Homo sapiens: one gene and its partners. The protein of the gene in region 1 purifies or fractionates together with the protein of each later gene. This does not show direct contact. Each region holds a gene or a part of one and is shown in the gene's direction. Other genes may lie near its edges.

The links. The genes of interacting proteins can lie anywhere in the genome.
Region 2: the proteins of TUBD1 (region 1) and ACTR3B purify together in Homo sapiens (affinity purification with mass spectrometry; one large-scale study listed by BioGRID and IntAct). This does not show direct contact.
Region 3: the proteins of TUBD1 (region 1) and TMEM63B purify together in Homo sapiens (affinity purification with mass spectrometry; one large-scale study listed by BioGRID and IntAct). This does not show direct contact.
Region 4: the proteins of TUBD1 (region 1) and SMPDL3B purify together in Homo sapiens (affinity purification with mass spectrometry; one large-scale study listed by BioGRID and IntAct). This does not show direct contact.

The regions. Positions count from the first base shown.
Region 1 is NC_000017.11:59,886,444-59,889,943, reverse strand, and holds part of TUBD1 (tubulin delta chain), read left to right. Parts: intron 1-3,500. UniProt on the Homo sapiens protein: Acts as a positive regulator of hedgehog signaling and regulates ciliary function.
Region 2 is NC_000007.14:152,850,252-152,853,751, forward strand, and holds part of ACTR3B (actin-related protein 3B), read left to right. Parts: intron 1-1,874; coding exon 1,875-2,000; intron 2,001-3,242; coding exon 3,243-3,326; intron 3,327-3,500. UniProt on the Homo sapiens protein: Plays a role in the organization of the actin cytoskeleton.
Region 3 is NC_000006.12:44,137,554-44,141,053, forward strand, and holds part of TMEM63B (mechanosensitive cation channel TMEM63B), read left to right. Parts: intron 1-926; coding exon 927-964; intron 965-1,913; coding exon 1,914-2,056; intron 2,057-2,154; coding exon 2,155-2,206; intron 2,207-2,698; coding exon 2,699-2,807; intron 2,808-3,474; coding exon 3,475-3,500. UniProt on the Homo sapiens protein: Mechanosensitive cation channel with low conductance and high activation threshold. Osmosensitive cation channel preferentially activated by hypotonic stress.
Region 4 is NC_000001.11:27,933,848-27,937,799, forward strand, and holds the start of SMPDL3B (acid sphingomyelinase-like phosphodiesterase 3b isoform 1 precursor), read left to right. Parts: upstream 1-1,152; 5' UTR 1,153-1,336; coding exon 1,337-1,397; intron 1,398-3,952. UniProt on the Homo sapiens protein: Lipid-modulating phosphodiesterase. Active on the surface of macrophages and dendritic cells and strongly influences macrophage lipid composition and membrane fluidity. Acts as a negative regulator of Toll-like receptor signaling.

The DNA.
Region 1 (3,500 bases):
GGCTGAAGTGCAGTGATGTGATCTTGGCTCACTGTAACCTCCACCTCCCGTGTTCAAGCAATTCTCCTGCCTCAGCCTCCCAAGTAGCTGGAATTACAGGTGCCCACGACCATGTCTGGCTAATTTTTGTATTTTTAGTAGAGACAGGGTTTTGCCATGTTGGCCAGGCTGGTCTCGAATGCCTGATCTCAAGTGATCCGCCTGCCTTGGCCTCCCAAAGTGATGGGATTACAGGCTCTCTTTCTTTTTCTTTTTCTTTTTTTTTTTTTTTTTTTGAGACAGAGTCTAGCTCTGTCACCCAGACTGGAGTGCAGTGGTGCGATCTTGGCTCACTGCAACCTCCGACTACCAGGTTGAAGCAATTCTCCTGCCTCAGCCTCATGAGTAGCTGGGACTACAGGCATGCGCCACCACGCCCAACTAATTTTTTTGTATTTTTAGTAGAGATGGGGTTTTACCATGTTGGTCAGGCTGGTCTCGAACTCCTGACCTCAAATGATCTGCCCACCTCAGCTTCCCAAAGTGCTGGGATTACAGGCGTGAGCCACTGTGCCCAGCCTCTCTTTCTTTTCTTAATTCACTTTACTCCTCTACTGCGTTTGATAACAGTAACGTATAAAAACTCTTTCCAGCAGGGCGCAGTGGCTCACGCCTATAATCCCAGCACTTTGGGAGGCCAAGGCAGGCAGATCACTTGAGGTCAGGAGTTAGAGACCAGCCTGGCCAACAGGGTAAAACCCCGTCTCGACTAAAAATACAAAAATTAGCCGGACATGGTGGCACATACCTGTAATCCCAGTTATTCGGGAGGGTGAGGCAGGAGAATCACTTGAACCCGGGAGGGGGGTTGCAGTGAGCCGAGATCTCGCCACTGCACTCCAGCCTGGGAAATAGAGCGAGATGCCGTCTCAAAAAAAAAAAAAAAAAAAAAAAGCCAGGCATGGTGGCTCATCCCTGTAATCCCAACACTTTGGGAGGCCGAGGTGGGTGAATCACCTGAGGTCAGGAGTTCGAGACCAGCCTGGCCAACGTGGTGAAACCCCATCTGTACTAAAAATACAAAAATTAGCCGAGCGTAGTGGTGCGTGCCTGTAATCCCAGCTACTTGGGAGGCTGAGGCAGGAGAATCGCTTGAACCCGGGAGTCGGAGAGTGTGCCATTGTACTCCAGCCTAGGTGACAAGAGCGAAACTCCGTCTCAAAAAAGAAAAAAAAAAGACAAAAAACAACTCTCTCCTTGAACCTCCTTCTCCTAGTCACCCCACTTTTCTTCTCCAGTTGTTGCATCTCCCCTGTCCTCACTTGCATAGTTCTCTCTGGGCAACTTCACTGTCATAGTTTGCTACATTTATTACACCTGTGACTTTCAGACCTCTAGCCCAGCCTCTCTTAAAAGCTCTAGACAGATTAGTGGATATCTCCACCCACATCTCTCATATGAACCTGAAACTCAACATCTCTATTCCCAAGGCATTCATTATTGTTCCTTGTGCTCTTGCTGCATACATACCATCAAACAAGATCTGCTTATTTGACCTCCTATATACTCCTTGAAACTGTTCTTCCCTTTCCACCTTCACTGACTTGCTTTAGTCTGGCTTTTGTTCTTTCTTACCTGGACTGTCTCAAGACACTCCTTTTAGGATTCCTTGCCTGGAGTCTACTGTCTATCACATCCATCCTCCGTACTGCTGTGTTTAAAAAGACATCGGCCGGGTGCAGTGGCTCATGCCTATAATCCCAGCACTTTGGGAGGTCGAGGCGGGCGAATCATGAGGTCAGGAGATCGAGACCATCCTGGCTAACACAGTAAAATCCCGTCTCTACTAAAAATACAAAAAAATTAGCCAGGCGTGGTGGCGGGTGCCTGTAGTCCCAGCTACTTGGGATGCTGAGGCAGGAGAATGGCGTGAACCCAGGAGGCGGAGCTTGCAGTGAGCTGAGATCGCACCACTGCACTCCAGCCTGCGGGACAGAGCGAGACTCCATCTCAAAAAAAAAAAAAAGACATCTAACAGCTGGGCACAGTGTCTCACTGTAATTCCAGTGTTTTGGGAGACCAAGGTGGGAGGATTGCTTGAGGCCAGGAATTCAAGACCAGCCTGGGCAATAGAGCAAGATTCTGTCTCTAGAAAAAAAAACAATAAAAATTAGTTAGGTGTAATGGCACACACCTGAAGTCCCAGCTACTTAGAAGGCCAAAGTGGGAGGATTGCTTGAGCTCAAGAGTTTGAGGCTGCAGTGAATTATGATTGACAGACATTTAACTATTCCTCGCCTGCTTGAAAATTTTTGGTGGTTAATCATGGCCTAAAAGATAAAGTTCAGGCTTTTCTAGCATTGCCTATAAAGATTTCCAAGATTGAGCCCTACCTGCTTTTCATCCCCATCCATCACTTCTACCCTCTCCTTCTCCATCCTCTGCTCCAACAATTCTGAGCTGGATGTTGTACCCATGGTACTTTGTACCTCTAAATATGATGTTCCTTTGGTGTGGATTTATTTGGTCATATCACGTTGCAGTGTGATTAAGTATTGATGTATTTATCTTTCCCACAAGTCTTTTTTTTTTTTTGAGACAGAGTCTCACTCTTGCCCAAGCTGGAGCACAGTGGTGTGATTGCAGCTCATTGCAACCTCTGCCTCCTGGGTTCAAGCAATTCTCGTGCCTCAGCCTCCTGAGTAGCTGAGATTACAGGCACACGCCACCAAGTCTTGCTAATTTTGTATTTTTGTTTTTTGTTTGTTTGTTTGTTTTGAGACAGTGTTTTGCTTTTATTGCTCAGGCTGGAGTGCAATGGCTCAATCTTGGCTCACTGCAACCTCCACCTCCCGGGATCAAGCAATTCTCCTGCCTCAGCCTCCGGAGTAGCTGGGATTACAGGAGCCTGCCACCACGCCCAGCTAATTTTTTGTATTTTTAGTAGAGATGGGTTTTCACCATGTTGGCCAGTTTGGTCTTGAACTCCTGACCTCAGATGATCCGCCCGCCTCGGCCTCCCAAAGTGCTGGGATTACAGGTGTGAGCCACCGCACCTGGCCAATTTTGTATTTTTAGTAGGATCGGGATTTCACCATGTTGGCCAGGCTGGTCTCCAACTCCTGGCCTCAAGTGATCCACCTGCCTCAGCCTCCCAAAATGCTGGGATTACAGGCATGAGCCACCACGCCCAGCCTCCCACCTGCCCTTTCTAAGGCTAGTTTGATGTCTTCATCTCCAAATTCCCAGCACAGTCCATGGCACATCATAAGCATTCAGCATATGTTTGTAGACCTGACCCAGGTACTCTTTTTTTTTTTTTTTTTTTTTTTTTTGAGACAGAATCTCACTCTGTCTCCCAGGCTGGAGTGCAGTGGTGCAACCTTGGCTCAGTGCAACCTCCGCCTTCCAGGTTCAAGCAGTTCTCCTGCCTCAGCCTCCCGAGTAGCTGGAATTACAGGCACATGCCACCACGCCGGCTAATCTGACCCAGGTACTCTTTTAGGCCCACACTGATTCAG
Region 2 (3,500 bases), on another chromosome or scaffold:
CACTGGTGGCTTCTCCAGGTAGAAGTTCAGATCACTGGTGGCTTCTCCAGGTAGAAGGCCAGATCACTGGTCACTTCTCCAGGTGGAAGGCCAGCTTCTCCAGGTGGAAGGCCAGATCACTGGTGGCTTCTCCAGGTAGAAGTTCAGATCACTGGTGGCTTCTCCAGGTAGGAGGCCAGATCACTGGTGGCTTCTCCAGGTAGAAGGCCAGATCACTGGTCACTTCTCCAGGTAGAAGGCCAGATCACTGTGGCTTCCCCAAATGGAAGGCCGGATCACTGGTGGCTTCCTGTGGCTTCTGCCCCGTTTCATTCTTCCTGCTCTGACTTCACCATCTCTAATCCTGAGTCCACGTGGGTGCTGTCACAGCAGTTCTAGGAGCTGGCATGAGAGAAAAATGATCCCTTTGTAGTCAGTCCTGGCTGTCTTTCCCCAGAACAGCAGTAAGCAGGAACAGACTACTCTCATATCATATAACTTAGAACCTGGGTTGCTAGGGACAGAAAAGTGCATTTTTTTTTCCGTGCTGATTCCCTGTGACTTCTGCTTACCTGTAAACTTGTTGAGGGACTCACTGTTCACACACTCAGAGCTGACTGGGAGGAGTGCCTGAAAGCAGAGAGCTCTGTAGTTGCTCAGGAACTCGGGAAGAGCTAACATATTTAGAGGGTCTTAAAGGAAATAGGGCTTTTTGACTCCTTGAAGGATTAATTTCCTTATGTAGTTTTCACATAAGGTGTTTTCTCTAAGAAAGTTCAATCAGGAGATACACTAGTCCCCCTTGTCAGTGAGGATATGATTCAAGACCTCCAGTGGGTGCCTGAAACTGCAAATAGTACCGAATCCTATATATACTGTGTTTTTTCTTGTACATACATACCTATGATAAAGTTTAATTTAGAAATTAGGCACAGTAAGAGACTTCTGAACAGCAGTAACTACTAAAGTAGAATAATTATTGTAACAATATACTGTAGGAAAAGTTATATAAATGTGGTCTCTCTCTGTCTGTCTAAAAATACCTTTCTGTACCATACTCACCCTTCCTCATCTTGTGAGGGTGTGAGATGATGCAGTGCCCCATGGTGAGAGGGCGAGAGGTGAGTGACGTAGGTGAGGCCACTGTGGCCTCTGACATACATCAGAAGAGGACCAGCTGCTCGGGTGACCTGGGCCGTCAAACCATGAGGATGTCAGTGGCTGCAGGTCAGGAGCTGACGGTATGGATGACTGACAGGTGGGCAGGGTTGACAACGCGGAGATGCTGGACAGAGGGCTGGTTCGGGTTCTGGGCAGGCGGAGCGGGACAGGCGAGTGCTTCCCCTTCCTCAGCCCCCCACCGAGCTTCTGGGGTGGCCACCGAGCGAGTCTTGGCCCTGGAGGGCAGTGCTGGCTGGGTGGCTCATCTGAGAATGTTCCTTCCGGTAACTTGGATGCTTTCTTCCCAAGATTGTCCTTCTGAGAAGCTTCAAGCACCCATTAGAAGACTTTCCCCCAGTGATGGTTAAGGCGGACCAGGGGAGAGCTGGTGTTATTTTGGCTCAAGTCAGCTGGACAGTTTCTGTTGTTTGTTTTGGCTTCCTGGTCTATGTGAGGGGTTGGCAGGGGGAGCATGAGGGAGCAGGATCGCCTTGTTTTTGCTTTGCTGTAATTGAGGAAAGGATTAAGGAGCCATCTGTGGCACATTGTTGTCTCCATAAAAAAAAAATCTACACTTTTCCAATAGCATTAAGTTTGCTTTTGTTCGCATCTTTCATAGGGCCGATGTGTCGTGCCCACAAGCGATTGGACCTGTGGGAGTTCTGTTGTGGGTGGTTCCCGGAACTGTGGGCGGGCGGTTTTACCCAGGGCTCCCTCTGCTTTGTGTCTTGTAGAATGTCGTACTCTCAGGAGGCTCCACCATGTTCAGGGATTTCGGACGCCGACTGCAGAGGGATTTGAAGAGAGTGGTGGATGCTAGGCTGAGGCTCAGCGAGGAGCTCAGCGGCGGGAGGATCAAGGTAGGAGCCAGAGGCCTCCACGCAGTGCCTGGGGCTATTGCCCCAGGCCTGACCGGGGCCCTCCTGACACAGAGCCGAAGGAGCTTGTCTGGGCCGCGTAAAATAAAAACAAGTGTTCATCGCTTTCTGAGCTGCATTGTGACATGACCATGGAGGTTTGCTGCCTGAGGTCCTTCCAGGCTGGTAGTTCAGACTGATGGTCCTGGTGACACAGCAACGGCAGCTTCACACTCTCCCTGGCCATGCCTGCCAGCAGTTTCCTTTTGTGTCGTAAGAGATCAGGCATGGGGTATAATGACCAGTGTCCCAAGGAGATGGGACTAATTTATGGTGAGGATCTTTCATGTCCTTCGGAAATGTTCTCATTAAATGAAAATAACTAATGTTAGCAGGGAGTTACAAGGCGTTCCTCCAAGATAGTAATTCTTAAGTAGCTGGTGATCACTGTGGGCTTCTAACCAAGAGTGGGCTTCGATAGGGGCAGTGGGCGCAAGGAAGAGATCCCACGAGTCCACTGTTGGAAGAGCACAGTTTCTTTTCTTTTTTTTCTTTTTTCTTGAGACAGAGTCTCTCTCTGTCGCCCAGGCTGGAGTGCAGTGGTGAGATCTCGGCTCATAGCAAGCTCTGCCTCCTGGGTTCACACCATTCTCCTGCCTCAGCCTATTGAGTAGCTGGGACTACAGGTGCCCGCCACCAAGCCCGGCTAATTTTTTGTATTTTTAGTAGAGATGGGGTTTCACCGTGTTAGCCAGGATGGTCTCGATCTCCTGACCTTGTGATCCATGCGCCTCGGCCTCCCAAAGTGCTGGGATTACAGGTGCGAGCTACCACGCCCGGCCAGAAAAGCACAGTTTCTTTTATTATTTTGAGGATGGTTAATCTTATTTGGGATGATCTCTACAGTGCCAGAACATCTGATATGTTAGGTTAAAAAAAAAAAAGCAGTGGGGTTAATTGCTTGGATTTTGTGCTTTTGAACTTTAGCGCTTTGAGCCTTGTGAGAGGGAGGTGCTGCTTGCCGGGTGCACTGTGTTCCTTTGAGCGCTGGGGGCTGGGATTCTGGTAGGTCTTAGGGGGATTTGGCAGCAGGGGCGGAGAGTCACTGAGTGCTGGGTGTGAGGTGGTGCTCGTGCCATAAGAGGAGGGCGGCCCTGGGTGCAGCTGTGGTCTCGTCAGCCGGGGGATGATTAGATCACATGTGTCTGTGGGTGTGGGGTAAGTGAGAGCTGCTTTCTCTTCCAGCCGAAGCCTGTGGAGGTCCAGGTGGTCACGCATCACATGCAGCGCTACGCCGTGTGGTTCGGAGGCTCCATGCTGGCCTCGACTGTAAGTCCCTCTCTCGAGGGCTCTGTGTCTCCATTCCTGTGCTCTCGGTTGAGTTTGGGTAAATACTGTCTACGAAGGTGAAATAGTGTGTGCCCTAATCGTGTGGCTCTAAACAGACCATTCTGTAAGATATAAATTATATCTTTTTTGTTTTTTCGAGATGGAGTCTCACTC
Region 3 (3,500 bases), on another chromosome or scaffold:
GGCACCTTTCTACCCCATCCTGTGTTATGTCTGGACCTTCTGCTGGATGGAGTTTGGGGCAGGGTGCCCTCTGCGCAGCCCTCCCCTGAATATCCCCATTCTCTGCCTTTACATGCCTGGAGGGTGGAGGGGAGAGATTTTTTTTTTTTTTTAATTTTTCCCTGAGACAGAGTCTTGCTCTGTCGCCCAGGCTAGGGTGCAGTGGTGTGATCTCAGCTCACTGCAACCTCCGCCTCCTGGGTTCAAGCAATTTTCCAGTCTCAGCCTCCCAAGTAACTGGGATTACAGGCGCGCACCACCACACCCAGCTAATTTTTGTATTTTTAGTAAGAGACGGGGTGTCACCATGTTGGCCAGGCTGATCTCGAACTCCTGACCTCAGTTGATCCGCCCGCCTTGGCCTCCAAAAGTGCTGGGATTACAGGCGTGAGCCACCGCACCTGGCCGGAGGTGGGGAGATACCTTGCAGCTCATAGTGACCCTGGGCTTTTGTCCTTCTGGGGTAGACTAGAGGATAAATAGCTGGAATTCAGGCAGCAAGGCCCTCTTCTCTGCTTTTGGCAGCCATGTTGCAAACTTATTAGCCGGAGGTCTGGAGGTCCTGCTAACCTTAGAACCCCAAGCCCCACCCATCCCACCCTGGCCCACACAGCCACAGGGTATTTGCAGAAATCTGTAGATCTGGACATGGGGATTCACAGATAAACCTGTTTAGTGTTGGTCTTTTTTCTTTGAGGGCTGAGACCTTCCCTCTCTCTCTCCCTTTTTGGGTATAAGCTAGTTCTGAGGGTATAAGGATTTTTTTTTAGTGAGGGGTGTGGAAGCTATGCCTGGAGGTAATTATGAGAATGGGTGGGACTTGAGGGAGGAGAGAGGTTCGGGTTGGTGGGCTGGGGACTCCCGCTGACAGCCCTCTGTTCCCCCAGGGTTTCTGTTCCTGGCTGACAGCCATCTTCAGGATAAAGTAAGTGGACCATCTTCAAGCTCTAAAGAAAGAGAGAAACTTCAGAACCTGGCATCTCCCTACAAAATTCAGAAGCCAGCAGCTTTCAGGGCCTTAGCACTCCTCGCCAGCACAGCACCCTCCTCCCTGCTCTCAAAGGCCAAGCCTCGGGTGCCTGAGCCTCTGCTGTACCCTGAACACTCACTTGACCCCATAATCTCCTCTGTGACCCCCTGCCGGCCCCCCCGCTTCTCTCCCTGCCCTGCCCCACCTTGAGGGAGGGGGTGGAGCCCCTGCCTCAACCTCTGTGCAGCCAGTGAGTGGGGGCAGCAGTAGGCTGGGAGCAGCCAGCCAGCTGCAGGCAGAACTCAGGAGATCCAGCCAGAGTCCAGCAGGCAGGCAGTGAGCGCTGAGAAAGGCAGGAAGCCAGGACAGGTCAGCACTGCCGCCACCACTCCCCCAGGCCTCCCCCAAGGGTACCCGGGCTTCACTACGCCAGGCTCAGCCACACCCATGAGGTGCTGCTGCCCCTCCTCCCATCCTTCCTTCACTTCTGCCTCTTTCACCACTCCTCCTCCTGCTGGTCCTCCTCCTCTCTTGCCTTCCTCCCTCCTCAGATATTTCTCTTTTTTCTTCCCTTTTCTCTGCATTCCTCATTTTTCTTCTTCCCCTTCCTGTCTCTGCAGTCTCTTCTTTCTTTTACCTATCTTTTCCTTCTAGCCCTCTGCCTTCATCCCTCCCCTTCTCCATGCATTTCTCCTTTTTCTCCCTCCCCCTCTCTTCTCCCTTTCTCCCCTCTCCCTTCACAGAAAATAGGGGACCAAGAAGTCCCATTTCAGCCCTATACTACTGCCAGATCAGCTGGAGCTAGGGTGGGTTTGGGGTGGGAGTGGGTGAGGGCAGGCAAGTTGCAGCCCCCTTCTTGCCCTGGTCCTAACCTAATTCCTTTGTCCAACCCGTATGGCTGCAGGGATGATGAGATCCGGGACAAATGTGGGGGCGATGCCGTGCACTACCTGTCCTTTCAGCGGCACATCATCGGGCTGCTGGTGGTTGTGGGCGTCCTCTCCGTAGGCATCGTGCTGCCTGTCAACTTCTCAGGGGACCTGCTGGGTCAGTGAGGGCCAGGACGGCTAGGGTGGAGAGAGGATGGGGCTGGAGGGGATGTGCCCTGACCCCACCATCATCCTCTCCCTCTTCCCACCCCACAGAGAACAATGCCTACAGCTTTGGGAGAACCACCATTGCCAACTTGAAATCAGGGTAAGATGCGAAGCTGGTCGGCCAGGCCAAGGTCTACGACCAGAGTCTGGGCCATGATGTGGGACAGGGAGGAAAGGCAGCTGCGTTGATGGGAGCAGAGCCTACAGGGATGGCTATGGGTCCCTGAGGGCTTGGGTTGGAGACAGAAGAGGGAAATGCCTGCTGAGGATCCCCCAAGGATGAAGAGGATACAGAAGAGGAGGGTGAAATCTCAGGAACCAGGGAGGGCCAGCTGGGGCAGTTGGAGACACTGTAACCAGTGGGTAGGGCGTAGAAAGGTGACCTATCAGGGATATTTTCATTGGAATCGAAGAATTTTGGTGTCTAGGGGATGTGGGATGTGGGCCTGCCTTGCGAGGAGTCAGTGCCAGAAGGCTGGTGGCAGTAGAGGGCCCTGTCTGTATCAAGGGTTTAACACTGACAGGCTGAGGTGTCTCCTCTGAGTGTGTCCTAGCCCCAGTGGCTCCCATGTATCCTCTCTGCTTCTCCCAGGAACAACCTGCTATGGCTGCACACCTCCTTCGCCTTCCTGTATCTGCTGCTCACCGTCTACAGCATGCGTAGACACACCTCCAAGATGCGCTACAAGGAGGATGATCTGGTGCGTGGAGCAGAGCCCAGGTCCTGCCCCATCCCCAGCCTCTTCCCTTCCCTTCCCTGCAGGCCTCTTTTGTCTCAGCCCCAAGAGGTGTCAGCTAGGTTTGAATGCTGGCACAGCAGCTCAGGAGCTCCCATCCTGCAAGTTACATAACCTCCCAAGCCATGATTTTCTCATCTGTAAAATGGAATAACAACAGTACCTCCCCCAAGGTTGTGGGGAATACACAGAAACAGCCGTGCTGTGCCCAGCACTTGGGAAAATAGCAGTGGCTGATCCTAGGATAGTAATATTCCTTCCCCTTCTACATGCACTCACCAAGCCAGAACCGGACACCTACTCCATGCCAGCCACTGTGCTGGGTTCTCAGGGTCTAAGGAGCTGAAAGTAGTACCCCCTTCTGCCTCTATAACCCCTCAAGAGCATGGGACGGCGTGGCTCTTTTGTTAGGCTCACTGCCTGATTTCTGTTGGAAACACTCCCCTGCTTTCCCTGGGACCTGGCTTATCCATAACTAAGGCCTCCTCCCACCCCATCTGTTCCCCTCTGCTCACCTACTTCTCTACCCACTCAAAACAAAGCCTCTTTCTCTAGTGCCCCCCACCCCTCACATCCCCTGGCTCCACTGGGGTCAAGCCTCAGAAGGCAAACCCACTCCCCTGTCACCCAGGTGAAGCGGACCCTCTTCATCAATGG
Region 4 (3,952 bases), on another chromosome or scaffold:
GAAGATAGGAAGATAGCTTGAGTCCAGGAGCTCGAGGCTGCAGTGAGCTATTATTATCTTGCCACTGCACTCTAGCCTGGGTGGCAGAGTGAGACAACCCCCTTCTTTTTTTTTTTTTTTTTTTTTTTTGAGACAGAGTCTTGCTCTATCACCCAGGCTGGAATGCAATGATGCAATCTTGGCTTACTGCAACTTCTACCTCCCAGGCTCAAGGGATCCTCCTGCCTCAGCCTCCCAAGTAGCTGGACTATAGACATGTATTACCATGCCCAGCTAATTTTTTTATTTTTTGTAGAGATGGTGTTTCACTATGTTGCTCAGGATGGCCTCAAACTCCTGGGCTCAAGCGATCCTCCTGCCTTAGCCTACCAAAGTGCTGGGATTACAGACATGAGCCACTGCACCCAGCCTGAGACACTTCTCTAAAAAAATACATAAATAAATAAAAGTTAAAATAATAAAAAATTTTAAAAGTTGTTTAAATAGGGCCGGGCGCGGTGGCTCATGCCTGTAATCCCAGCACTTTGGGAGGCCGAGACGGGTGGATCACAAGGTCAGGAGATCGAGACCATCCTGGCTAACACAGTGAAACCCCGTCTCTACTAAAAATACAAAAAAATAGCCGGGCGTGGTGGCGGGCGCCTGTAGTCCCAGCTACTCGGGAGGCTGAGGCAGGAGAATGGTGTGAATCCGGGAGGCAGAGCTTGCAGTGAGCTGAGATGGTGCCACTGCACTACAGCCTGGGTGACAGAATGAGACTCCGTCTCAAAAAAAAAAAAAAGTTGTTTAAATACATAAAATAATCAAAAGTGAGTATAGATGAAATAAGAGTGGCCATAAGTTCATAATTACTGAAGCTGGAGGAAGGTACTTGGGGGTTCATTACACCATTCTCTCTCCTGTTTCTGTTTGACTGTTTCCATAATACAATGTTAAGAAAGGATTAAACGTGTCACCCCCTCCTAGAAGCCCTCTCACATTCCTCAGTCTGAATTAGATCCCCCTTTCCGGGGCTTGCCAATACACCTGATGTGCTGACCGGCAATTCTGTTGTTTGCCCCTCCCTCTTGGGGGCAGGGGCTGCACTGGCAGGAGAGGTGTGGCTTCCACTTAAGGGTCCGGTATGCCTGCCTCCTCGGGCCAGCCCAGATCATACCCTGCTGGGCAAAGGAGGAAGAGCCAGAGGATCCAGACGCCTTGGAGGACTTGGAACACCTGTAACAGGACAAGGAGTTCTGCTCAGGCACGTGGCCACAGAAAACTACTTAGGAAGCCTGTGGTGAGAACAACAACAGTGCCTGAGAATCCCACGGCTCTGGGGAAGTGAGCCCCGAGGATGAGGCTGCTCGCCTGGCTGATTTTCCTGGCTAACTGGGGAGGTGCCAGGGCTGAACCAGGTACAGCACTGGGAATGTCTGCTATGCCTTTGTTTTGTACTGTGAACTCTGGGGCTGCGGGAAGCTGCTCGCAGCCAGCTTGAAGGTGCTTCTAAAGATAGCAAGGCAGGAGCTAGGCAGGGAGGCAGGTGGGGAGAGCTAGTGGGCCTTAGCAAGTGCTGTTTGAGGCTGAAGATTTTAAGTGGAGGCGCCAGCTGGCCAGGGAGGGACACCGACATTGCGAAGAGGTCTGGGTACGTGAGAGCTAGCTAATTAGTAGAGGTAGGAGGTGGCAGGAAAGATTCGTGGACTCATTCAACAAATGAGGTCCTTTCCTGTACCATACGTTATTCTAGGAGCCAGGGATATATCAGAGAAGAAAAGAAAGTCCCCGTCTCAATGAAGAATTCCTTCATCTGGGGAGAAAAAAACAAACCACACGAACAAGTAAAGTACGCAGCATTGGAGGAGATGATAAGTGTTATGGGGAAAATAAAGTAGAACAGGGAAGGCGGGTTGTGGGGAGGGGGTACTTACAAGACGTCCAGAGAAGAGCTGTCAAATCAGGTGACACTCAAGTGGAGCCTTGAGGCAGTGAGTGGGGGAGCCACATGGGTGTCCAGAACATTACAGGAAGAGAGGACAGTGCACGGGGTCTGAGGTGGACACACAGGAGATGTGCATGAGGAACAGCAAGGAAGCCCGCGTGGCTGAAGCAGGGTGGGCAGGACAAGTGGGGGTGAGGTTGGCAGATGGTGGGGTGGGGCAGGTGCCAAATCATGGATAGCCTCGAAGACTCTCTTGAGGACTCAGACATTTTTCTTTCCACGTGCCTGTAGATAGGAAGGACGCAGGCTTTTGCTCAGGGTGAAATGGGATGTCATTGGAGGGTTCTAGGCACAGGTGTAATCTATTCTGACTTCTGTATGTTTAAAAGGACCCTTGAGGCCAGACGCAGTGGCTAACATCTGTAATCCCAGCACTTTGGGAGGCTGAGGAGGGTGGATTGCTTGAGTCCAGGAGTTTGAGACCAGCCTGGGCAACATAGCAAAACCCTGACTCTACTAAAAATACCAAAAATTAGCTGGGTGTGGTAGTGGGTGCCTGTAGTGCCAGCTACTTGGGAGACTCAGCTGGGAGAATTACCTGAGCCTGGGAGGTTGAGGCTGCAGTGAGCTGTGATTGTGCCACTGCACCCCAGCCTGGGTGACGGGAATGAGACCATCTCAAAAAAAAAAAAGAAAATGAAAGAAAAAAATTCTCTTTATAGCCCCTCTGAAGTAGGTGCTAATATCATTATACCCATTTTGCAGATGAGGCAAATGAGTCTCAGAGGGGACATTGCACTTGCTGAAGATCTCCCAGCTGGGAAATGGCAGGACAAAGCCTGTGCCTGGCTGTACTATGCTTCATGTCCTCTTGGGATGGTGGGGTTTAGAGGTACTATTTTTTTCTCTTTTCTCCAAACTTGCTGGAATGTATTCCTTTTAAAGTAAATTTAAAAGGAATTCCGGGCCGGATGCGGTGGCTCACGCCTGTAATCCCAGCACTTTGGGAGGCCGAGGCGGGCGGATCACGAGGTCAGGAGATTGAGACAATCCTGGCTAATACGGTGAAACTAAAAATACTCTACTAAAAGTACAAAAAATTAGCCAGGCGTGGTGATGAGCACCTGTCGTCCCAGCTACTTGGGAGGCTGAAGCAGGAGAATGGGGTAAACCCGGGAGGTGGAGCTTGCAGTGAGCCGAGATTGCACCACTGCACTCCAGCCTGGGCGACAGAGTGAGGCTCCGTCTCAAAAAACAAACAAACAAACAAACAACAACAAAAAAAGGAATTCCGCAGCACCTGTAAGGTTTTTCCAACTCCAGGTGTCTTCCTGAAGCACAGGTGGATTCTGAGACAGGGGATCAGACAGCATCATCCCTGCTTTGCATTAAACTGTGGGATTTCTGCCTCCACTTTCCTTAGCCAGGAGCTTGGGTGGATGCCAACTTGCTGGCTCCTTCTCCTCCTACACATGTCCTGTGTAACATTTCGCTCCTTCCTCAGCTTCTAACTGCAGAGAAGCAGACAGGTTCTTCCCCTGTGGGTTAGCTTGGTAGGAAAACACTCCCTGGAAGGCCAGCCCAGGGCTGAGGGAGCAGGACCAGGGCAGGAATGGTAACACCTACCTCTGGAGCTATTGTGAACAGAGGGTATTCACTGTAGGTGGTCCGTAAATGTAGGTTTTAACAAATGAACTCCATGGGTTTTGGAGGGCCTCCATTTACAAAGGATGAATTACAATTGTGTTTTGGGGCTAATGCTAGCCTTAATAGCAAAGGACTGAAATAGAGACTGAGACCATTGTGTGGTGTGGGTTATAGGCAATAACAGACAAAAGCCACTGAATCACAGGAGTCAGACTAGGAGGGCCTTCAGGGAACCTCTGTTCAGTACTTTCATCTTATACTTGAGGAAACGGAGGCTGAGGGGCAGTGTGGCCCAGGGAATGAGTCCTAAGGCTGCCTTGCTCACCCCACAGCCAGGTGCTCTGTATAAGAGAACTCTTTTACCTGCACAACTGAGGCAGG